Homo sapiens: one gene and its partners. The protein of the gene in region 1 interacts with the protein of each later gene in a pairwise test. Each region holds a gene or a part of one and is shown in the gene's direction. Other genes may lie near its edges.

The links.
Region 2: the proteins of RHBDD1 (region 1) and SLC66A2 interact in binary tests that used the Homo sapiens proteins (3 or more experiments, as listed by UniProt).
Region 3: the proteins of RHBDD1 (region 1) and CGRRF1 interact in binary tests that used the Homo sapiens proteins (3 or more experiments, as listed by UniProt).

What each region holds. Positions count from the first base shown.
Region 1 is NC_000002.12:226,901,477-226,909,255, forward strand, and holds part of RHBDD1 (rhomboid-related protein 4), read left to right. Parts: intron 1-5,316; coding exon 5,317-5,405; intron 5,406-7,345; coding exon 7,346-7,402; intron 7,403-7,779. UniProt on the Homo sapiens protein: Intramembrane-cleaving serine protease that cleaves single transmembrane or multi-pass membrane proteins in the hydrophobic plane of the membrane, luminal loops and juxtamembrane regions.
Region 2 is NC_000018.10:79,927,148-79,934,926, reverse strand, and holds part of SLC66A2 (solute carrier family 66 member 2), read left to right. Parts: intron 1-904; coding exon 905-958; intron 959-4,615; coding exon of another isoform or gene 4,616-4,623; exon of another isoform or gene 4,624-4,662; coding exon of another isoform or gene 4,663-4,699; intron 4,700-7,779.
Region 3 is NC_000014.9:54,519,537-54,527,315, forward strand, and holds part of CGRRF1 (cell growth regulator with RING finger domain protein 1), read left to right. Parts: intron 1-2,917; coding exon 2,918-3,057; intron 3,058-7,779. UniProt on the Homo sapiens protein: Able to inhibit growth in several cell lines.

The sequences.
Region 1 (7,779 bases):
CTGAACCAATTTACATTCCCACCAACAATGTATCAGTGTTGCCTTTACATCCTTGCCCACACTTGTTGTATCATTTGATTTTTTATAGTAGTCATCCTCACACATGTGAGGTGATATCTCATTGTGGTTTTGATTTGCATTTCCCTGATGATTAGTGATGTTGAGCAGCTTTTCATGTACCTGTTGCCCATTCATATCAAAGGAAATAGCAAAATGAAAAGGCATCCAGCAGAACGGAGACTATATTTGCAAACCATATATCTAATAGGGGACTAATATCCAAAATATGTAAAGAACTATAGCTCATTGGCAATAAATGACCCAATTGAAAAATGAGTAAAGCACTTGACTAGACATTTTTCTAAAAGAGACATACAAATGTAACTTGTGATTTTTTTAATACAGTGTATTTTAGATACATGTATTTTATGTGTAATTGAAATTCCACTCTTCCTCTCATCTGATAGTTACGTACTGAGTGCTAGTGTCAGGCCGTTTACTGTAGTTGCTGTGGTCATGGATGTAGAGTTGGTGGTGGTCCTGTCCCAGAAGGAATTACTCTGAATAGGATAGAGGGTGGTAGGTCATAACCAAATCCCCAGTCCTAGCCTAAGACCTAGTAAGGTCAACAGGAAGTTGTTCCTAGTTGCAGGATTGTCCCTGAATGCTGCTTCGGATGGCATCTTCCACGTGGAGCTAAGAACAGAATGAAGCCACAGGCTTATTCAGAGACCACAAGCTTCACAACTTCTGTTTAACACATCTAATTATGATTGTAACAATACTGTCTGGTTTTGATGCTGTTACGTTTGAAGGTAGATCCCAGCCACTGATCAGAGCATTCAGATGGATCATCTTCCCCCAAAGCCCAGGGCTTCTTTCTGTCTCCACAGCACCCCCAGCTCAGGGGTAAAGTGCCCTAACCCTAGGACTGGTGAGAACCACCTTCCCAGTTCAGTTTTCTCCCTGTCTGCAGGTCCATCTATCTTCTCGCTCAGGATGTGGGTATCTCTTAGAGGGTGAAGGGAAGTGATTTGTCAAATGGTTACCAAGGGCATGGAGAAAGTTAATTTACCTCTTAAAATGACTTTTATATTCCTTTTACATTGGTGAAATTCATTCTCCTGTTTTTTTATGTGTGTGATGTTGAGAGATTCTCAGTTTTGATTGAATAAGATCATAATCTCATTTTTATTTTAAAATTGAACACTTTTATAAAGCTTAAATGAAACAAGACCAGTTAAATTTTTGAGATGGAACTTTTGTGGAAAATGCTGAATGTTGGAGGATGACGCAATGAGTTCTCCGGACTGCCAGCCTCCCTTCCCTAGATATTTGAAATTATATTAGGGCAATTAGATTATAACTCAAACTTCTGAAAACCATTTAGAGATAGATAAGAAATTCATTTCACTGTATTGTACTCTAAATTGTAAATGAGATTCAAGATTAATTGTTTAATAGGTTGAAGTTTTAAATTGAAACTTCCTTCTATGTTATTTTATATCATATATGCTTCACCATGAAGGTTGATTTGAAACCAGAGTTTCAGAAATACCAATATTATTATATTCTTTTCATCTAAATTGAAGTTATTATTATTTTTTTAACTGGTCCTGGCCACTTCTTTGTATCTCTCAAACTGCCACTTTCTTTGTCATTTTTACAACTATTAATAGGTGGCCGATTGTACTGAGCCTGAGCATAGAATAAAATAAGTACAGTGGTCCCCCTTATCTGTGATTTTGCCTTCTGCATTTTTAGTTAGCCCCAGTCAACCTTGATCCAAAAACATTAAATGGAAAATTCCAGAAATAAGCCATTTATAAGTTTTAAATTTCACACTGCTCTGCATAGCATGGTGAAATCTCACCCCGTCTCACCCAGGACGTGAATCATCTCTTTGCCCCGTGTGTCCATGCTGTCTCTGCTACCCACCCGTGAGTCACTTAGTAGCTGTTATGATTATGAGATGAGAAAAGCATAGTATATATAAGGTTCAGTACTATCTGTGGTTTCAGCCATCCAGTTGGGGGTCTGCAGATAATGGGGGGTGACTATAGAATTTCTTAGCTTGGCTGGGGAGCTAAAAGCATAGTTCCTACTATTCTTGCCAGAAAATGGGAAAAAATGTTCAATCCCATAATTTTATTATATGAAGTAGTGACACGGACAGGAGGCAGAAACAGTGGGTAGAAGAGGGCGGTTCCCAGCAAAGGCCCCACCCTCAAGCCTGGAAACCCACAGCCCTAAATGGGAACAGGCATTCCTGTTTTTGCATCCAAAAGCTGCCTATTGGCCCACCACACCCCCCTCTCCTGTATCCATATAAACCTGAGACCCCAGGCTCCAGAAGGAGACAAGGAGATGAACAGAAGAGCAGAAGAATAGCAGAACGGCGCAACAGAGAGAAGGAGCATCTGAATGCTAAGAGGGAGTTTACCTGGACATGATCGGAGAGGAGATATGTCACTGGACAGCCAAACTCCAGGGGAAGACCATCTTCCCACTCCATCCTTCTTCCACCTCCCCATCCATCCCACTGGGAGCCACCTCCATCACCCAATAAAAGCCCCACATTCATCCTTCAAGTCCACGTGTGATCTGATTTTTCCTGGATGCCAGAGAAGAAACAGGGAAACAGAAAACTTTCACACTGGCCCTCTGCCTTTGTGGAAAGGCAGAGGGTTCACTGAGCTGTCTAACCCTTAAGCTGCCTGTGGACCGCAAGGTTAAAAGAGCGCACTGTAACACACACCCACTTGGGTTTCAGGAGTCGCAGATACACACCCCTGGACGTTGCCGTGAGGCTGAAGCCTAGGGGCACTCATCCCAGCTCCTGCACCTGCCCATCTGTGTGCTCCCCTTCCCGTAAGGGGTTTAAGCATGCACGGTCACCAAACAGACAAGTTACACCACTGTGGCACATCCTGCAAGCGGGGGGGGAGGGGGGTCAGGGAACTCCTGTTTCAGTAGATATATCTGATGAAAATAATGCTCTCCTGAGGGGATGATCGTGTATGTGGTGTGTGTGCGTGTCTGTGTGTGTGTGCACGCGCATGCATGTGCCATGACTTTTAGCACGTGTGCATGTATGTGAGGGCTTGTCTGGGCAATAGTGTCATTTAGTCAGCTAATGGGAACAAGCATCAATGCTGTTCTCTTTACAAGGCTCCTGTTTGTCTCTTTCTTTCAAGTGTTCCTCATTGCATGTTCTTTTCCTGAGAGCCAGCGAGTCTTTTCATAGCTTGGAGACAAAGAAAATTACTCAGAACCATCTTGCTTGTGGTGTTTCAGGGAATCTCCCCTAGGCTGCTGCCATAGTAGGCGAAATGTATTGGTTTTGACTCTGAGTCTCGTGTAGGTTACCAAATGGCGGATTCTTAGCTCTGTGATTGCCGTGGCTCAGCAAGCACCCTGAGCTGAACATCTAGTGGTTTTAACTTACCTCCTGTTGGTCTTGGTGAAACGGTCCTGGCACACTTGAGCCATTTACTCAACATATCCTTGAGTGCCTCTCATGTGCCTGGCCCTGTCCTGGGTGTTTGGAATACATATGTAAAAGCCACATAAAGGCTATGTTCTTGGAGTCTCCATCAGGCTCTTTCATAACTTTCAGTTTCCCACCTTCTGGAATGAGAGGTCACTATTCCAGGCTGTGGGAATGCGTTCATTTGCTTGGCTTTTTTTTTTTTTTAAGCTTCTAATTTTGTATAATGTATGAATGAGACACCATTGCTGCCCTCAGGGAGTTTGTGTGTGACAGAGAGAGACGGACAGGCAGGCAGACGTGTAAGTACTGTGCCACCAGCAGACTGGCTTCGTGCCAGAATAAGGTAGGAGCCTCAGCTCTGAGGGGAGGCAGGAGAAGGAAAGAACGGCTCTTCAACTGGGGTGGCATTTTTTGACAGAGGTGCTGTTTGGCTTAGCCTATGGTCAGAGAGTGCTTGGGGGATGTGACAGTGGGGCATGTGGGAATGGAGGTAGTAGACGATGAGGTCTCCACCCTCTGACTTTGCAGAGATGGGCAAGGCCAAGTGTTGGAAGGGCTTAAACACACACCGGAGTATTCTGTGAGAACCAGTGGATTTCAGAGGATGGCAATGACACCACTTGCCTTCTGCCTCAGGAGGATAACTGATGGCCGTGTGTGGGATGCACTGGAGAGCAAGAGCTGGCTTGCAGGGAGACCAGCTGGATGATTTTCTTTCATTTATTTTATTCATTCAACACACATTCATCTGGGGTTCACTCTGTGCCCAACACTGGGCATTTCCAAATAGTCCAGATGGCAGTAAGCATGGTTGTGGCAGTAGGAATGGGAAGGCTGGGAGGGGTATGAGAGGCATTACAAACGGGAAGTGGGAGTGGCACCCCAGAAAAGTCTAGTTTAAGGTGCTAGTGGATGTGTGCATGTGTGCGCGGGGGTGTCTAGAGGGTGGCGGGCAGCTGGAAATTGAGGTCAAGTGCTTAAAGAACAACTCGTTGTGTAGGACCCCCCCCTTTGTGGTAACAGCAGAGGTTTTTGAGAATCGCCAGTAATTTCTTAAACTCAGGCTGGTTGGGAGGTCATTCAGCCAGGGAACTCCACAAAGAGTGTTGCCACTTGGGTCAAAGTAGACCTCTGAAAATAAATCTTACAAGTAATTGCTGGTTTTAGATGCCAGTTTAAGAAGAGTTAAACCACTGTCATGCCCTAACGCAAACACTTTCATGCCCTAACTCATCTTTCAAGTTTGAAATTTAAATGTATGTTTCTTTGTTCTGAGTGACTGAAACATACACATGAAGACAACTTTGGTGGATGCAGGTGGGCATCTCAGTTCCTTTTGCTGAGTTTCACTTGCTCTCTGCTTCACTCATCCATGGTGTAGAAAACTGCAGCAGTCTGCCCTGCCATAACACAGATAGACATCATCCCTCACAATGGCTGGATAATTCCAGATTTAATGCCAAACAGAGAAAACTGATTTTATTTATGTTTTGTGATAAGAGGTACAGAAAAAAAACGGAAAGCGATGTAATGACTTGTCTTGACCAAATGCTTCCACTGCTCTGGAGGAGACAACCCACTTCCCCTGGTTAAGGAGGGGTGTTGCGTTTTAAACATGTGGTGGTTGTTATTCATTGTACTTTTTTTTAAGGTAGGAGATGTTGTTCTTTGGACTGAGTTAAATGCTGCTTAGCATAAAAGACTTGATGTGGAACAAAGCCTGCAGACTGTGACTATTTGACATGCACTGGGCTAATGAGAAGACAGAATGTCTCTAATCAGCAGCAGAACAAACACTCACAAAGGGTCTCCTTCCCTCCTAGGACTTCCTTCGCTGGGCATCTGGCTGGGATTCTTGTTGGACTAATGTACACTCAAGGGCCTCTGAAGAAAATCATGGAAGCATGTGCAGGTACAGAATAAAACACCTTTGGCATGACAACAGCTTGGAAGTTCATGTTAATTTTAATGTGAACAGAAGCAACCCCAAGTTTCCCTGTGGTTCAGCTCAAGAATTCCCTAATATGCCTGTTTTTCTTTTTAAACCGAAAGGTAAAACAACCAGTGCAGTTCCTTACATTGCTCCACAAAAGAGGCTGCAAACTTAAATTTCGAATCTGATACTTTCTTAGGGGACAAATATCAGTATATATTTATACCCTCAACCTTAATGCTACCCGCAGAAAACCACGATTTCCTAAAGAATGCAGAGAACTAAAGTGCCTTTAAAATAATGCATTCTTCTATAATAGTCCATGAATTAATATACGTGCAAGGCAAAGGTGAAAAAGAAAACAAAGCCTGGACTGAAGTGCATGGCCAGTATTTTAAAGAATTCAGACTGATGACCGGGTCCTTGGTGGATGAGCCATATATTCATGCATGGCGAAACCAAGTCTGTTATTGCTTGAAGCTTAGCTCCTGCTTTTTTTAATTTTGTTTTTCCCTTCAAATTGATACTCAATGAAAATATTTCATTTAGAAATACTTGTATTTTTTAGACCTCTTAATTTTCAATGCGATTCTCATTTTGACTTGTAAGAAAACTGGTTTGCAAACACTTGTTTTATAGACTGAGTTCCACTATTTCATCTTTTATTCATGGGAAGTCTTCTGAGACTATTTTACCTTTTCTTGAACCATAAATAATTTGTTTCACAGTTTGTGCTGATGACTGGTATTCTTGAGAACCATATAATATTCATGATAGTAGAAAGCTTTCCAGGCACTGCACTGGCACCTTTATTAGCAGGTCGTGTTCACTTTTGGTTGATTTTTACAGGCTGTGTTGCATTTAAGCAGATCCTCATTTTCCCACGTTTGCTTATTAATGTGTTTCCACTGTACGTACTTAGAGGAGGCAGTGGGAGCTTCATTTATTGAAAATGTCCAGTTTTATTGTATTTTCAATACAATTTAATACTCATTAGTACTGATAAAAGAGATGATTCTCGGGAGTTTAATGTCTTGTTTCTTTTTTCTGTGTCTCATGATGAAGCGGTTAGTAAAGCTTTTTGCAGACATGTTATGAAATTTAAGCAAGTGCTTTGTTTAATTTTTAAAGAGGATTTTCCCCTAATTATAATATTTAAACTCTTAGTTTTAAAAGCCTTAAAAAATAAGTGGTGACTTATTTCTACACCACTCCATTTTCAAAGTAATAAATACAATAGCAAATTAAATAGGAAAATTAGAACACTCAGTGCAATTTGCAAATAGCCTGCGAACTCGGCCTTTTTTCTGTGAGCTGAGAATTGAAGGACACAGGAACCCCATGGAAAACGACCCAGCATGTGGAAGCTGCTGTCTGATGCCTCCTGGAAGAGGAGGGTCACCCTGAGGGTGTGGCCCTTGGCCCTCCCTCTCTCATTTCATTCAGCCGTGCCAAATTGACTGAGTAGACAGTCCTACTGCCTTCTGTAGGGACAAGAAAGAGTGAAGTCCCCTAGGAAGGGTAGGGAGGATGGCTCTCCTAACACCTTCTTTGAGGAAGGTTCTCCATTTAGCCAGAGTGTCTCTGCTTGTACAGAGACATCAAAGCCGAGGCTTGGTACTTTGGCAGGCAAAGACTAAGGAACTTCAGTGAGTGTAAATTAGGGTTTCATTTTCCACTACACACACACACACACACACACACACACACACACACACATTCTTTTCCCTGTAGGGACACACACACACTCTTTTCCAGTTAGGGCTGGCCCCCAAACAAAAGGGAGTTTATTTTAATAAGTGTTTAGAAATCATTTGAAATGACCTTGGGCTTTGTCCAGAGAACTTTCTAATTACTGGAACAATTAGCATTTAAAGCTTTATGGCTGCCATTAAAATGTTTATTTCTTTTACGTTTAGGCGGTTTTTCCTCCAGTGTTGGTTACCCAGGACGGCAATACTACTTTAATAGTTCAGGTAGGCACTGTATTTCATTTAATAAATTTTAACTTATTTTTAAAATTATAGTGTTCAGCTCTACAGAGTACTTTAGGATACTACTAGTTTCTGCTGTGGTAGGGTCATTCACATGTTGTGTAACTGTGCCTCTAACACACCTGGAAGCTAGATGGAGGGTAGCCTAGGGAGCATATTTGTGGGGGTTGGTAGGGAAGGCCAGGGAAGGAGGTAACTCAGGCATGAAAACATGGTATGATTGGTATGAGGTCTCTCATGTGTGATAAGATTCATATTAGACCTTGGTTCTTTAAGTCTCAGTCTGAGACTCTACTGCTGGGAAAGTGTTAAAAGTTGGTTTTAGGTGTATAGTTCTCCATGGCCCATCCTGTGTATAT
Region 2 (7,779 bases), on another chromosome or scaffold:
GTGAGTGGAACAACACCCTAAGTCCAAGTAGCAGAGGGCAGAGGTCAGAGGTCACCTCGTATTTGCTTTTAGCTGTTCACTTGCAAAATTTCCATTTTAAGTCTACATTGCCTGGGGCAGGCAAACACAACCTTTGATCCTACTTCTGCTTTCTGATCCCAGGACTTATTTGAGTCTCTTGTTTATCAACTGTCTTCAATCCCAAACCCCATGGGGCTTCCCAGGAGCCACCTAGAGGCCACACTGTTTTCCAGGACCTTGGCTGCTGTCTTGTCCTGGGGCTGCGCAGATAGGAAGGTTGACTTATAACCTGTCATTGCCAGTGCTGGGCCCTGGAGGGTGCTGGGTCCCTGTCACATTGTCCCTGTGTCTGTGTCTGTGCAGAGGTGCTTGTCAAGTGCATGTGCGGAACCAGCTGTCCTTTTACAGCAGAGTGTACTCTGAAAACAGCTTTATCAGGCAGCCTTCTGAAGAGTTTTGACCTGGGGCAGCTATATTGCAGCCGCAGCTTGCATACAGATGAGTTTCTAGGAAAAGGGAAGCAGGATCTGCCTGGCTGCTTTCCATCAGCACAGCACGCTTGTGACGGGCTCCCATGCTGCCTTTCTCCCGAGAGATTAAATGGAAATGTGGTAACTTTCAATTTTTGGCTCAATTTTTCTCCCATTCTCCCCATTCACTTTTTTATGATATTGGAAGAGGTTAGGTTTGCAGAAAAATAGTTCAGAAAGTGGGTTTTCTAATGCACAAAAACCAAAATCTTGTGATCTTTCTATTCTGGTTTGTTTTTTTTTTTTTAAAGAAATGCAAAAAGTTCTGGGAACACAGCTGTTTACCCATGTTAAAACCAGTATGTTTCTGTCTTTTTCCCCTTTCTGTTTCTGTCTCCCTTTTTAACGTGTAGCTGCAGATAGCAAGGATGAAGAAGTCAAGGTTGCCCCCAGGCGGTCCTTCCTGGGTATGTACCCTGCGCGTGCACTGTCCGCAGCACGTTCCTTTTGCTTCATTCCTGCAGCTGTACTTCCTCCTGTTGTTGCTTCCATCTGTGCATGTGCGTGCGTCATCTTTACCAAGCGTGGCCGAGTCTACAGCAAACTAATCAACTCCTAGCTCTGCTGTTTTCAAGCATGAAGTAGTTACTAGAAGCCTGTCCATGCTCTTCTGTGTGTGGGGAGATGGGGGCGGGAAGGGGAAGCAGGAGGGAGACAGGAAGGGAGGAGAAAAATTTAGATGACAAATTTTGGACTTTGTTAAATTTATTCCAAAGTATTTTATCCTTTTTGATGCTATTGTAAATGGAATTGTTTTCTTAATTTCAGTTCTGCTGCTTCATTGCTACTTTATAGAAATGTAATTGATCATTGCATGTTGATCTTGTATCATGCAATTCTGCTGAACTGGTTTGTTCTAAGAGTTGTTTAGTAGATTCTCTATATATGATTCTGTCATTTGCAAATATAGTTTTAATTCTTCCTTACCAATGTAGTTGCTTTTATTTCTTTTTATTGCTTATCCTGGTTATAGGCGGTGAGAGTGGATGCACCTATCTTATTCTTCATTTTAGTGAGAAAGCATTCCATCTTTCATCACTAAGTAGATGTTAGTTAATGGATTTTCCATAGTTGCCCTTCATTAGGTTAAGGCAGTTCCCTTTTATTCGAGTTTGTTGGGTGTTTTTATAATAAAAGAGTTTGCCAAATGCTTTTCGTGTCTGTTGAGATGATCATGTGGGTTTTATTTTTTATTCTACTATGATGATGTACTACATTGATTGATTTTTGTGTGTTGAACCAACCTTGCATTCTTGGGATAAATCCATGTGGTCATGGTGTCTAACACTTTTTATCTGTTGCTGGATTTTATTTGCTAGTATTGTATTGGGGATTTTTTGTATCTGTATTCGTAAGACATGATGGTCTGTAGTTTTCTTGTGATGACTTTGTCTAGATTTAGTATTAGGATAATACTGGCCTTATAGAATAAGTTGGGAAATGTTCCCCTCCTTTTCTATCTTTTTAGAGTTTGCAAAGGGTTGACACTAATTTCTCTTTAAATATTTTTAGAGTTATCCAGTGAAGCCATCTGGGCTTGGGCTTTTCTTTGTGGGAAGTTTTAAAATTACGAATTCAATCTCTTGTTATAAGTCTATTCAGATTTTTTGTTTCTTTGTAAGTCAGTTTTGGTAGTTTGTATTGGAATTTTTCCATTTCACCCAAGTTATCTAATTTGTTGACATATAATTTTTCTTAGTATTCCCTTATAATCCTTTGTATTTCTGGAAAGTCATTAGTAATGGTTCCTCTTTTATTCCTGACTTTAGTAATTTGATCCCCTCCTTTCCTTTCTTTTTTTGGTCAGTCTAGCTAAAAATTTGTCAATTTTTTGTTCTGGTCAAATAACCAACTTTTTAAAAGGTGTTTCTTTTTCTTTTCTTTCTTTCTTTCTTTCTTTTTTTAACACAACACATCCACATTGCCTATCAGAGAACCAATTTTTGGTTTTGTTCATTTTCTTTATTGTTTTTCTATTCTGTGTTTTATTTCACTCCAATATTCTTTCATTCCTTATGCTTGCTTTGGTTTTAATTTACTCTTTTTCTTAAGGTGGAGGTTAGAACATTGATTTTTTTTCTTTCTTCCTTTTTAATGTAGTTATTGACAGCCATAATTTCTCTCTAAGCAGGTGCTTTACCTGCATCCTATACTTTGGTGTGTTGTGTTTTTGTTTTCATGCACCTAAAAGTATTTTAAAATTTACTCCAAGATTTCTTCTTTGACCCACTTATTAGGAATGTGTTAACTTCCACATATTTGTGAATATCCCAAAATGTCTTCTGTTATCGATTTCAAATTTATTTCCATTATAATTGTAGAATATACTCTGTATTATTCCAGTACTTTTATTTATTTATTTTTAATATTTGGAGACAGAATCTTGCTCTGTTGGCTGTGGTGTGATCTTGGCTCACTGCAACCTCTGCCTCCTGAGTTCAAGCAATTCCTGTGCCTCAGCCTCCCAAGTAGCTGGGACTATAGGTGTGTGCCACCGTCCCTGGCCAATTTTTTTTGTATTTTTTGTAGAGACAGGGTTTTCACCATGTTTACCAGGCTGGTCTCAAACTCCAGAGCTCAGGGCACCCACCCACCACAGCCTCCCAAAGAGCTAGGATTATAGGCATGAGCAACCACGCCCAGCCAGATTCCAGTACTTTTAAATAGAGGCACATCTTATGGCCTAGCATATGATCTGTCCTGGAGAATATTCAATGTGCATTTTGCTGTGGTTGGGTGAAGGTGGAGGGTTGTCTGTTAGGTCAAGTCTATGATTTATTGTTCTTCTGTGTAGTTGTTACGTCCATTACTAAATGTGGGTGTGGAAGTCTGTAACTATTTTTGAATTATCTTTTTCTCTTTTCACTTCTGTCAGTTTTTGTTTGATGTATTTTGGGGCACTGTTGTTTGTTAGGGACGTATATGCATATTTTCTCTTTTGACATCTGTGTCTTCTGACGTTAGTGTCATCACATGCATGTCTCCTGTGGTTGCCATTTGATATATTCTTTCCATTGTTTTACTTTTAACTTTTTTATGTCTTTGAATTTAAAATGAGTCTTCTGTATACATACGATGGATCTTTAAAAAAAATCCATTCTGGCAATTCTGCCCTTTGATTTGATTGTTTATTTCATTCACACTTAATGTTATAATATGTTCAGATTTACATCTGCTACTTTACTTTCTGGTTTCTGTATATCCTATGCCTTTTCCCCTTAGCTGTTGCTCCTTTACAGCTTTCTTTTGTATTAAGTAAATATTTTCTAATGTAACATTTTAATTTCTTTAAATAATGTTTTCTGAATTATTTTCTTAGTAGTTACTTGAAGGCTTACAATATTCATCTTAACTTATCAGAATCTACTTCAAATTTATACTAACTTAATTCCAGTGACAGGAACCTTACTCCTACATGGTTCGATTTCCTCCTCCCTTTTTAAATGGTATGATTATTATACATATTTTGTCTACATATATTACAACCTAACAATATATTTTTCTGATTGTTCCTTTATATACATTTTATGTCATTCAAGAACTTGAGAAAAGAAAGGAGAACAAACATATATTATGGAGTTATTATATTAACCTTATTTACCATTTGTGGTTCCTTTCATTTCTTTCTGAGACTGAGTTACCATCTACAGTCATTTTCTTTCTCTAATACAGTTTTGATCCCATCTCATTTGTGCTATTAATATTATTGTCAAATATATTACATTTCTTTATGTTAAAGGCCCCCAAACAATACAATGCATATTGTTTCATGCAGTTACTTTTTAAGTCAACTAAGAGAGGAAAGGAGAAGACATGTGACCGATATCATCTTTTATAATAACTTACATCATTGTCTTTACCTGTACTCTTTTTTTATGTGGATTTGAATTGCGTCTGATGTTTCTTGTTTTCAGCATGAAAAATTTGTTTTCTGTAAGGTCTGCCTACTAGCAACAGATTTTCTCAGTTCTTGTTTATCTGGGAATCTTTGTTTTCCCCTTATTTTTTAAAAAAAGTTTTACTAGATGTAAGAATCTTGGTTGATGATTTTTTTTTCTTTTCAGTGCTTTGAATATGTTATTCCACTGCCCTCTGGACTCCATTGTTTCTGATGAGAAGTCAGCTGTTAATCTTATTGGGGTTTCCTTGTAAGTGATAAATTATTTTTCTCTTGCTACTTTCAAGATTTTGTCTTTGTTTTTTGACATTCATCATTTAGACTGTGATGTGTCAGGGTGTGGATCTCTTTATCAGGTTTGCAATTTGTTGAGCTTCTTGGGTATGTGGATTAATATTTTCATCATATTTGGGAAGTTTTCAAAAGTCATTATCTCCTTGAATTTTTTTTTCTGCTCCCCTCTCTCCTCTCCACAATCTCACCCATTCTGCATGTGCCGGTGCCCTTTCCTGTCATCCCACCTTTCTCTGAGACTGTGTTCTTTTTTCTTAATTCTGTTTTCTGTTTGTTCTTTAGGTTGCATAGTCTTTATTGATATTTCTTTGAATTCACTGATTCTTCTGCCAGCTCAGTCTGTTGTTGAGCCCTTATAGTGAGTTTTAAAATTTTAGTTGTGCTTTGCAATGCCAGAATTTCCACTTGGTTCTTTTTTTTTAGAATTTCTGTCTCTTTATTGATAACCTCTATGTGATCAGTTGTTGTCATCATATTTTCTTTTAATTCTTTATGCATGGATCCCTTTAGTTATTTGAACATATTTATAATAGCTATTTTAAAGTCTTCTTCTACTGAGTCCAACACCTGTGCCTCTTCAAAAGCAGTTTGTGTCCTGCTTATTATTTTTTTCCTGTGTGAACCACACTTTTCTGTTTCTTTGTATAACTCATTTTGTTTTCTTGTTGCAAGCTGGACATTTTAGGTAAACTATAGTAGCAGCTGTGGATACAGATTCCCCCACTTGGGGGAAGGATGACTTACTGTTTGCTTGTTTGTTTTGTGATTTGGCTGGACTAGTGCAGTCTCTGGGCCTCTTCTCCCTCAGATGTGGTGGTTCTGGCTGGCTGTGACCCTCCCTGATCTTCCCGTTAAGCTTCTGGTGGTCAAACCAGCTGTTGGCCTCCACTCATTGATGGCTGCTGGCTGATTTGATGATGCCCTGGGGGATGTATTCCCCACAGCTGGGCAGGGTGGCCATTGGGGCCAGTGTTTGGTGGTGGTTCTGTTCCCAGGAGTGCTCCTCTTGGTTGTCCTTTCTGGTTCTGTTTGATAAACTTTGAGCTCATCATGGAGCTTCTAGCTCCTCTTAGTTGCTGGCTGCCGAGGTCTCTGTTGTTTTTGTTAGCATCCTTACACTTGAACTTGTACCTGCTCTAAGCAGGGAGTCCCTCTAGGGAGAGCTACGGAGCTCTCTATCCTGATACCGCCATCCCCAGGACAGAACCTCTGGTCCTCTGAGGGTGACAGCTCTGCTCTGAGTGCTGCATGGGAAGTGAGTTGTTGCCTCTGGTCTTCTTAGTTTGCCCCTGCTTGTGTGGAACCTCTCCCAGTGAGCAAGCTGAGGCAGGGACAAGGGATGCTCAGTGTCCTCTGCCCCTGCGCCATGGGTGGGGGCTGAGTGGAGGAAGGGAGCCTGGGCAGACAGGAGCTGAGCAGGCGATGAAGAGCTCGGGTGCCCGCCACTGCTGCAGTGGCACTGGGGGAGAGGGAGCCTGTCTTCTCGGTTGCCTGCTGGGAGTAGAGCTTTTGTCACATGGGGATGGGGAAGCAGGTTGTGGCCCAAGTGTCACGAAGTTGCTGTTCCTGCTGCCACTTAGGTGGTTTTCTTGGATAAGCGTTTCTCCATTCGCCGTGTGTCCCTAAGACACGTTAGGGACTTTAAGTGGGTGCTGTTTGTAATGTTCACCACTGGCAGTGATGTTGCTGGAGAGGGTCTGTGGAGAGCCTCACACTGCTGTTCTGGAAGAGCCTACTGCCTCTGTTGTTTCTGACCTGGCTGAAACCCTGATGGCTGGAAGCATGAAGAAGGTTTCAGGCTGGCAGAGCAACGCTCTTGAGTTTCTGTTCAATGGCTACATTGAGTAAACGCAGCAGCCAAGCATTCTCCATGGGGTGTGTCATGGAGGAACTCCTGGAACTGTCCTGAAGTCCTCTTTAGAAGTAGGTAGCCCAAAACTTTCATTTTAAAGTGACTTGGGGAAAACTGTTTATTCCAGTGCCATCTGGGCTGGGGCCTTTCTGGGCTGTTTCTGCTGTGTATGATGCTGTGTTTGTGTCCTGATTTCGGGCAGAAGCCGTTCAGGCTGGAGGGCCATGGCTCCCTTGGCCGCGGTGACAGCCCAGCCCCTCACCTCTCTCACCTGTCCACCGTTGGGTGCCCCACTGAGCAGACTCTGAGCAAATGAGGGGCCCGGAGATGTCAGTTAGGGTAAAGGGGGGAAAAGGCTCCTGAAGATGAGAGGAGGCTGAGAGCAGGCAAGGCCATTCTCCCAGGGCCTCCCTGGCTCTAGCTGAGGCGGCTGCAGGAATGTGTCTCAGCAGCTGTTAGGGCAGTGCGGCGGTGAGCGCTTGTCTGTCTGGGCAGCCTTGGGTTGGGACGCGGACACCTGTCTCGGCAGTTGCTTGATTTGTCCTTGCCGAGTGGGAGGGTGTTTGTTTCCCGGGGTCCTCTTTGGAAGCCGGCACGGCTGGCCCTCCCACTCTGGCCCTAGACGTGCTCAGTCCCCACTCAGCCTGTCCCACTCACTGGGGTTGGGGCGGGGGCTCTGTCACTCCCCGAGGGTCTCTGATGTGGGTCTCTCTGCGTCGTCCTCTGGCCCCAGCTGTGTCGTCTGCCTGTCCCTGTTGCCGCCTGCTGCACAGGTGGCAGGATTAGAGGGGTCAGCGAGGCCAGTGCCGGCCTCGAAGGCTAAGAAGGGCATTTATACTCATTCTGCAGCAGGTGGTGTGGCCGTCTTTGTTAAAATCCTTTTGCGTCCCTGATCCTTAGGATAAAGTAAAAGTCGGCCCTGGTGGCCTCGGGGGCCTCTTGTCTGTGCTCTCCTGACTGTAGCCTGTGCCCCTCAGGTCCCTCCAGATGAGCCCCTGTGTGCCTGCCCGGGGCTCTCCCGACTGTAGCCTGTGCCCCTCAGGTCCCTCCAGATGAGCCCCTGTGTGCCCGCCTGGGGTCCTGCTGAGCCCTGCCTGCAGCTCCGGGTCTGGGCAGTGCCTGTTTGTTCCCTCCCAGGTGGCCGGGCCGTTTCCAAGGACAGGCTCTGCCTGCTCAGCTGGAGT
Region 3 (7,779 bases), on another chromosome or scaffold:
CAGTGCACCCAGCCTAGGACCAAGTCTTATAACGACAGTTCTGCGTATTTTTGTATTGACCTAATCCAGCTCCTGGTTCCAAGTTATAAACCTGGCTCTGGCCCTTGTCTGGAGAAGACAGCCTATGCTGGTCTCCTTAGTACATGAAGGCTTGGTTGCCACTGTCTGCTGCCAGACTGAGAACCATGAAACCATGGCATAGCCTTACTCATTACTTTGTTTCTTTGCTTTTTTTGGATCCATAAAGGTATTTGTTCCCAGCATTTTATTATAAAAATTTTCAAACATACAGAATACTAGAAAGAATTACACAGTGAACACACATCTGCCCATCACTTAGATTCTACAATCAGCATTTTACTGTAATTTCTCTATTACATATCTGTCCACATTAATCCACTCTTTTATCCATACATTGGTCTATCTTATTTCACGATGCCCTTCAAAGTGAGTTGTACTCTTCACCTGTAAGTTCTAAAACATTACATATTACTGATTAGAGTTCAGTGTTTGTTTTCGTTTATAGTTTTTTGAAGTAACATTTACATATAAGATACACAAATCTTATTTTTTATTTATTTATTTTTTTTGAGATGGAGTCTTGCTCTGTCGCTCAGGCTGGAGTGCAATGGCGCGATCTTGGCTCACTGCAAGCTCAGACTCCCAGGTTCACGCCATTCTCCTGCTTCAGCCTCCCGAGTAGCTGGGACTGCAGGCGCCCACCACCACGCCTGGCTAATTTGTGTGTGTGTGTGTATGTGTGTGTGTGTGTATTTTTAGTAGAGACGGGATTTCACTGTGTTAATCAGGACGGTCTCGATCTCCTGGCCTCATGATCCATCCGCCTCGGCCTCCCAAAGTGCTGGGATTACAGGTGTGAGCCACCGCACCCGGCCAAGATGTACAAATCTTAAGTGTACCATTTACCAAGTGTTATCAAACACATCATCTATACAGCTTAAGCCTCTGTCAAGATACTGAACGTTACCGTCAATTTTCTTATGCTCTTTCCCAGTCAGTCCTACTCCTGTACTTCCGGAAGCAACCATTGTTCTCATTTTTATTTCTACCATAAATTTGTTGTGCCTGCTCTAGAATTTTATATTAGAGAAGGATACAGCATTTATTCTTTTGTGTAAGGCTTCTTTTGCATAGCACGATGTTTCTGAAATTTATCCATTTGATTGTAGTAATAAGTTGTTCCTTTTCACTGCTGAATACTTCTATTCTTTTCTTTAAATATACCACAGTTTGTTTACTCATTTCAGCGGAGTCTTTCTTTTTTCTTAAAGCATATGGGACTCAGGTATCTGTGGGGTCTTTTTAATTTTTCTTTTTCTTTTTTATCTATCACTGATATGTATTTGGAGAGAAGGGAGTGCATCAAATAGGCTCCTAACTGTGCCGTCTTTAACTAAAATTTCCTAGTTTAACTGGTGTGTATTAATTTTAGATTATTTTATGTAAATTGAGTAAAGTAGCTGTTTTTTAATTTTATTGGGAATTGAATTTAGCCCCTTTCATTTTCCTTTTAATTCTGTTCCATGGGCATTGTCAGAGTTTACATTTTTACATGAAATTTAAAAGTAGAAGATATATAAATGAAGAGCTATAGTTGGTGTTTTAAAAGTTCCATTGTCCTGGCTGGGTATGGTGGCTCACGCCTGTAATCCCAGCACTTTGGGAGGCTGAGGTGGGCGGATCACCTAAGGTCAGGAGTTCGAGACCAGCCTGGTCAATATGGTGAAACCCCGTCTCTACTAAAAATACAAAAATTACCTGGGCATGGTGGCACATGCCTGTAATCTCAGCTACTTGGGAGGCTGAGGCAGGAGAATTGCTTTAACCCGGGAGGCAGAGGTTATAGTGAGCCAAGATCACGCCATTGCACTCCAGCCTGGGCAACAAGAATGAAACTCCATCTCAAAAAAAAAAAAAGTTCCGTTGTCCCATAAATCATATTAGTCTGCCTCTTTTTTCTTTTGAGAGACGAAATCTTGCTCTGTTGCCCAGGCTGGAGTCCAGTGGCACGATCTCGGCTCACTGCAACCTCTGCCTTCCGGGTTCAAGCCAGTCTCCTGCCTCAGCTTCCCAAGTAGCTGGGTCTACAGGTCCACGCCACCATGCCCAGCTAATTTTTGTATTTTTATTAATGACAGGGTTTCACTATGTTTTGGCCAGGCTGGTCTCGAACTCCTGACCTCAAGTGATCCTCCCACCTTGGCCTCCCAAAGTGCTGGGATTACAGGCATGAGCCACCACACCCGGCCAATAGTCTGCCTCTTGAATATATATTTCTTTTTCACATTTAAAAAAATTCAATAAGTTCATCATGTGTTTGCTGTTAAATTAAGTATAATTTATCTATAATCTCCATACTCCTTTGGTGTTATCAACAGTATTAACAATAGAACTCTTTGTTTTCAAGAATGTGTTGATTCAGCCAGCTGAACAATACCTAGTCCTTCCTTGATATCTGAGGGGGATTGATTCTAGGATACCCACCCCCCATATTCTAGGATGCTTAAGTCCCTTATATAACATTACATAGTATTTGCATATAACCTACACACGTCCTTCTGTACACTTCAAATTATCTCTAGATTACTTACACCTAATGTAAATGCTGTGTAAACAGTTGTTATACTGTATTGGTTTTGAATTTGTAGTATTTTTTATTGTTATTTTTTATTCTTCCCCCTCGTCCCCAAATATTTTTGATGTGCACTTGGTTCATACAGAGGGCCAACTGTTTTGCAGTTCTGTGGGATCTCTAAAATAACGTAAATTGAGAAATTTAACCTCTTTCTGACACTTAATGCTAAAAGGAATCGCTAATGAAGCACAACAGATTTTACACATAACATAAAGTTTCAACATTTGTTAAAATAATATTTTATTTTTTACCTTTTTTTAGGTTTGGTTGGGATGTTCCAGTAATTCTGAGAAATTCAGAAGAGACCCAGTTCAGCACAAGAGTTTTCAAAAAGCAAATGAGACAAGTCAAGAATCCTTTTGGCTTAGAGATCACTAATCCATCTTCAGCTTCAATTACAAGTTGGTGGCTGTTTTCCAAAGATTTTCTCTCATTGTTTGCCCTCTTTTTTTAGCCCTTTTATTTTCTTTCTCTATTTCTTTCCCTTCATTAGACTTTTAACAAACATTTGTTGGGCAACTATGTTGTTCCAGGTGCTGTACTGTATATGACAGATACAAAGATTAAGAAGTTACAAACTTTACTCCTGAAGAATTTATCACCTAGTAAACAGAGGTAGATGTGTATACAAAGGAGTAGAATGAAGTATTACAGGTGTTAATAGTGAAGTCTCTTAGGACACTATGCCATTTTTATTGGTCTGTAGTAAAGTGAGAAATGATGTGTTATGTCTAAATACAGTTAACGTAAGGTTGCTAACCTTTTGAGGAACAATTGCCTTTTTATTTTTTTTGAGACAGATTCTTACTCTGTCATCCAGGCTGGAGTGCAATGGCACAATCTCGGCTCACTACAGCCTCCACCTCCCGGGTTCAAGCGATTCTCCTGCCTCAGCCTCCCAAGTCACTGAGATTACAGGCATGCACCACCACACCTGGCTAATTTTTGTTTTTTTAGTAGAGACAGTGTTTCACCATGTTGACCAGGCTGGTCTCAAACTCCTGACCTCAGATGATCCACCCACCTCAGCCTCCCAAAGTGCTGGGATTACAGGTGTGAGCCACTGCGCGCGGCCAGAATGATTGTCATTTAATCTGAAACTATGGTATTTTGGTATAAATTATTTTGATATAACATGTTCTTTTGTAGATGGTAGGTAATAGATGGCAGTTGTTTGCTTTTGTACTTGCTTGGAAAAATAAGTTGTCTGCAGGACCATATAGGAACCATTAGAATTGTAAAGAAAGAGATGCTTAAATTTGTTAAGGTGAAGAGGCATATTCAGGAAAGCCTTCATAAAAAAGAATATGCTGAGTCTCTCTTACTTTTTTTTTCTTTATTCCTTCCTCCTTTTTTTTTTTTGAGTAGAATCTTGGAAGATAGGTGTTTACTTCGTGGATGAGAAATGGAGTGATACATTAAAGAAACAGTAGTTATGGCTAAAGCATAGGATGGGACAGGTAACAGAGGAGTCTAAGAAGACTCAGGTTCTTCCTATGGGTCCTCCATAGCCAGATCCTGTTAGAAAAATGAGGAGTACAGAAAGAATAGCAAGTTTCCAAAGAAAGGCAATGAATTCAATTTTGAACTTTTGGACTTTGAAATTCTTTCGTGACAGTTCAATAGAAATAAAGAGTAGGCAGTCCTAGATACAGTTCTGTAGCTTTTTTTCTGGGCCGAGACCCTGTCCCTTCTATACTTGCTTACATTTCTGGTTTCTTGAAAACAAATAAGCCAGATCTTTCTCTGCTTTTCATCCTAGTCTAGCTACTGCCGTATTTCTCTTCTTCCCCTCACAGCCAGCTTCTTAGAAGCTGTTTGCATTTTCCTTCTCTTAGCCTGCTTCATTTTTACTCCTCAGTGCAGTGCAGTCTGACTTTTCCCTGTATCCCTTTACTGAAATGGCTTTCTCTGAGGTCACTAATTACGACTTCTGCCCTGCACTTTTGACCCCCAGCAGTCATCAAATCCAGTGGGAGCCTTTCAGGGCTGAGTTAATGCTCTCTCTCTAGTATTTTACAGAGTTGACCTTCATTTGCAACGTCCTGCTCCCTTGCGTCTATGGACCATTCTTGTCTATTCATCTTTCCTGCCTCTAACTCTCAGAATCTAATAACTGGTCAGAAATCAGTTTACTTAGTCAAATAGATCATCAGGCTTAAGTAAATCTTGATTTGTAAGGAAAAATATATGTTTTTTTTTTTTTTTTTCGAGACAGGCTCTTGCTCTTCCACCCAGGCTGGAATGCAGTAGTATGATCATACCTCACTGCAGCCCCAATACCCTGGGCTCAAGTGGTCCTCCTGCCTCAGCCCCCTGAGTAGCTGGGACTACAGGTGTGCATGACCGTGCCTGGCTAAATAAAAAAAAAAATGTTTTTTGTGGAGATGGGGTCTTGCTGTGTTGCCCAGGCTGGTCTCAAACTTCTGGCCTCAAGCAGTCCTTCTGCCCCAGGCTCACAAAGTGCTGGGATTACAGGCGTGACCCACTGTTCTTGGCCCCAAAAAGTACAAAATTTCTTATTCATCCTCTTTAGCTGTAAATACTATTACCCTATGAATTGATGGAAACTAGGATCTCGGCCACTCCCCTCCCCGCTCCTTCCCTATAATAGATAACAGTTCATTCTGATATTTTTTACTTGAGAAAACCAAATTTTGAGATATGACACAGATAAAACTAATTTGTTTAAAAGATAGTAGGTTGTGCATGCCTGATTAAAGTGTACACCCAGCTACCAGCTACTCGGGAGGATGAGGTGGGAGGATTGCTTGAGTCCAGGAGGTCGAGGTTGCAGTAAGCCGTGATCACACCACTTCACTTCAGCCTGGGTGACAGAGTGAGACTCTGTCTCAAAAAATAAAATAAAAAATCAAGTGTACAGCATAGTGGTGGTTCAATAACCTCCCACCTCTGTGGCCATAGGCTAGAACCTGCTACAATGTCACATCTGGCTCTTGAGCAGGACCCGCAATGAAAAACCTACCAGCTGCAAGGCCTTCCTTCCTGCAGTACAGTTCCACAGGTCTGAAAATACACTGAAAAACTAAGAAGAGCTGATACATTGTGAGCAAAACACAGGGCACTTGTGAGGCAGAAAGTGTGAGGAAATCCATCAATCTGCTTTTCAGGCAGAAATAGTCACAAATAGAACCAGCCTTGCGAATGTTTGAGGCAAATGAAAAGATAGCCAGTAAGTAGCCCTCTTAGCTATGCCTGCACACTAGTTGCTAACCAACAGTAGTATTACTGAAGTCATGAAAAATTATTTAAATGTGTGGATGTACAGCATGAATACTGAAATATTTTAATTTTTAAAATACCGATGCATATCATTTATTATCTTTCTCCTATGGGGAAATAGAAGGATTTTGATAGGAGTTATACTCAACAGAGTAAAATTCATTTGTTTAAACTGTGGAAAAGTGGGTATCATTAAAGATGTCTATACAGAACATTAAAATAATATTGTAACAATATTTGTGACATTTAAAAAAGTTATTTCATTTGATGTGTAGATAGTTTAAAAATCTTTTTTTCACCACTGTACCCAAACTGCCTGACATATAGCAGAAGAGGGTGAATAATCTAGAGACCTGATTTAACTTGAAAATAAACCAGAGGCTGCACGTGGTGGCTCATGCTTGTAATCCCAGTACTCTGGGAGGCTGAGACGGGCGGATCCTTGAGTCCAGGAGTTCAAGACCAGCCTGGCCAACATGGCGAAACCTCATCTCTACTAAAAATACAAAAATTAGCTGGGCGTGGTGGCACATGCCTGTTAGTGCCGGCTACTCAGGAGGCTTAGGCTGGAGGATTGCTTAAGTCTGGGAGGTTGAGGCTGCAGTGAGCTGAGATCATGCCACTGCACTCCAGCCTGGGCAACAGAGTGAGACCCTGTCTCAAAAAACAAAAACAAAAAAACACACATGCTTTTTATTTATATTTAAGATTTTTTTTTTTTTTTTTTTTTTTGAGACGGAGTCTCGCTCTGTCGCCCAGGCTAGAGTGCAGTGGTGCAATCTTGGCTCACTGCAACGTCTGCCTCCCAGGTTCAAGCAATTCTCCTCCCTTAGCCTCCTGAGTAGCAGGGACTACAGGTGCATGCCACCATGCCCAGCTAATTTTTTGTATTTTTAGTAGAGACAGGGTTTCACCGTGTTATCCAGGATGGTCTCAATCTCTTGACCTCATGATCTGCCCACCTCGGCCTCCCAAAGTGCTGGGATTACAAGTGTGAGCCACTGCGCCCTGGCCATATTTTAAAATTTATAATTAAAAAAAAAAGAAAACCAGAGAATCGATTTTAATCTGAGTCATTTAGTTCTGTTTACTAGGGGTGGGTTGCTGGGATTTTTTTGTTGTTGTTATTATGTAATGATATATTTGGATTTGCGTTTCCATGTCTCCAATATAGAGTCTTTAATGAAATTGAAAGTTAGATACTCAGTGTATATAAGTTGAGTTGAATTAATTTGATTCAGGAATTCTGCTTTTTGTAAATAGCTTCCTTATATTTTAGCTTATTCACTCTGGTAAGAGCTAACATTAAAGCAAAAGGGTTAGAAAAAAACACAATGTACATGGCATGTTTGGAGGCGTTTGTGAACCTCCATTCTCTACAACCTAAAACTTTCATCTCCCAATACTCTGGCTTTATTATCCTCATGAATGGTCTCCTTGTTTTATTACTGCTTCTCTCACAGGGATCCTTCCTCAAGAAGGTTTGTGGCTTTTCCGCCCCATCATTTCTCCCTTTTTAGTGGCTTAGCATATTTTCTACAGTCCTTATTTTTTTCACTTTTTTGCAAGGCTGTCTCTTACACTCCGCTTTATTTGCTTGTTATAGATAGTCTGGGTAAGGACAGTTTGAGAGATACCACACCCATGTGCTTCACTTATTTTGATTCTGAATTTTCTTACAGCTACGTCCCAATTCTGTTAATGCTATTGATCTAAAGTGATGTCATGTGTGTACTGAGTTTTAGAAGGCAAAAAAATACATAAAAATTGAAACTCTTTGCAAAAAAAAAAGTGGAAAAGGTAAAGGGAGAATAGTTTTGATGGGGGTACTGACACTGTCTTCAGATAGTGGAAATCATTACATTCTCCCCTCAGTTTAT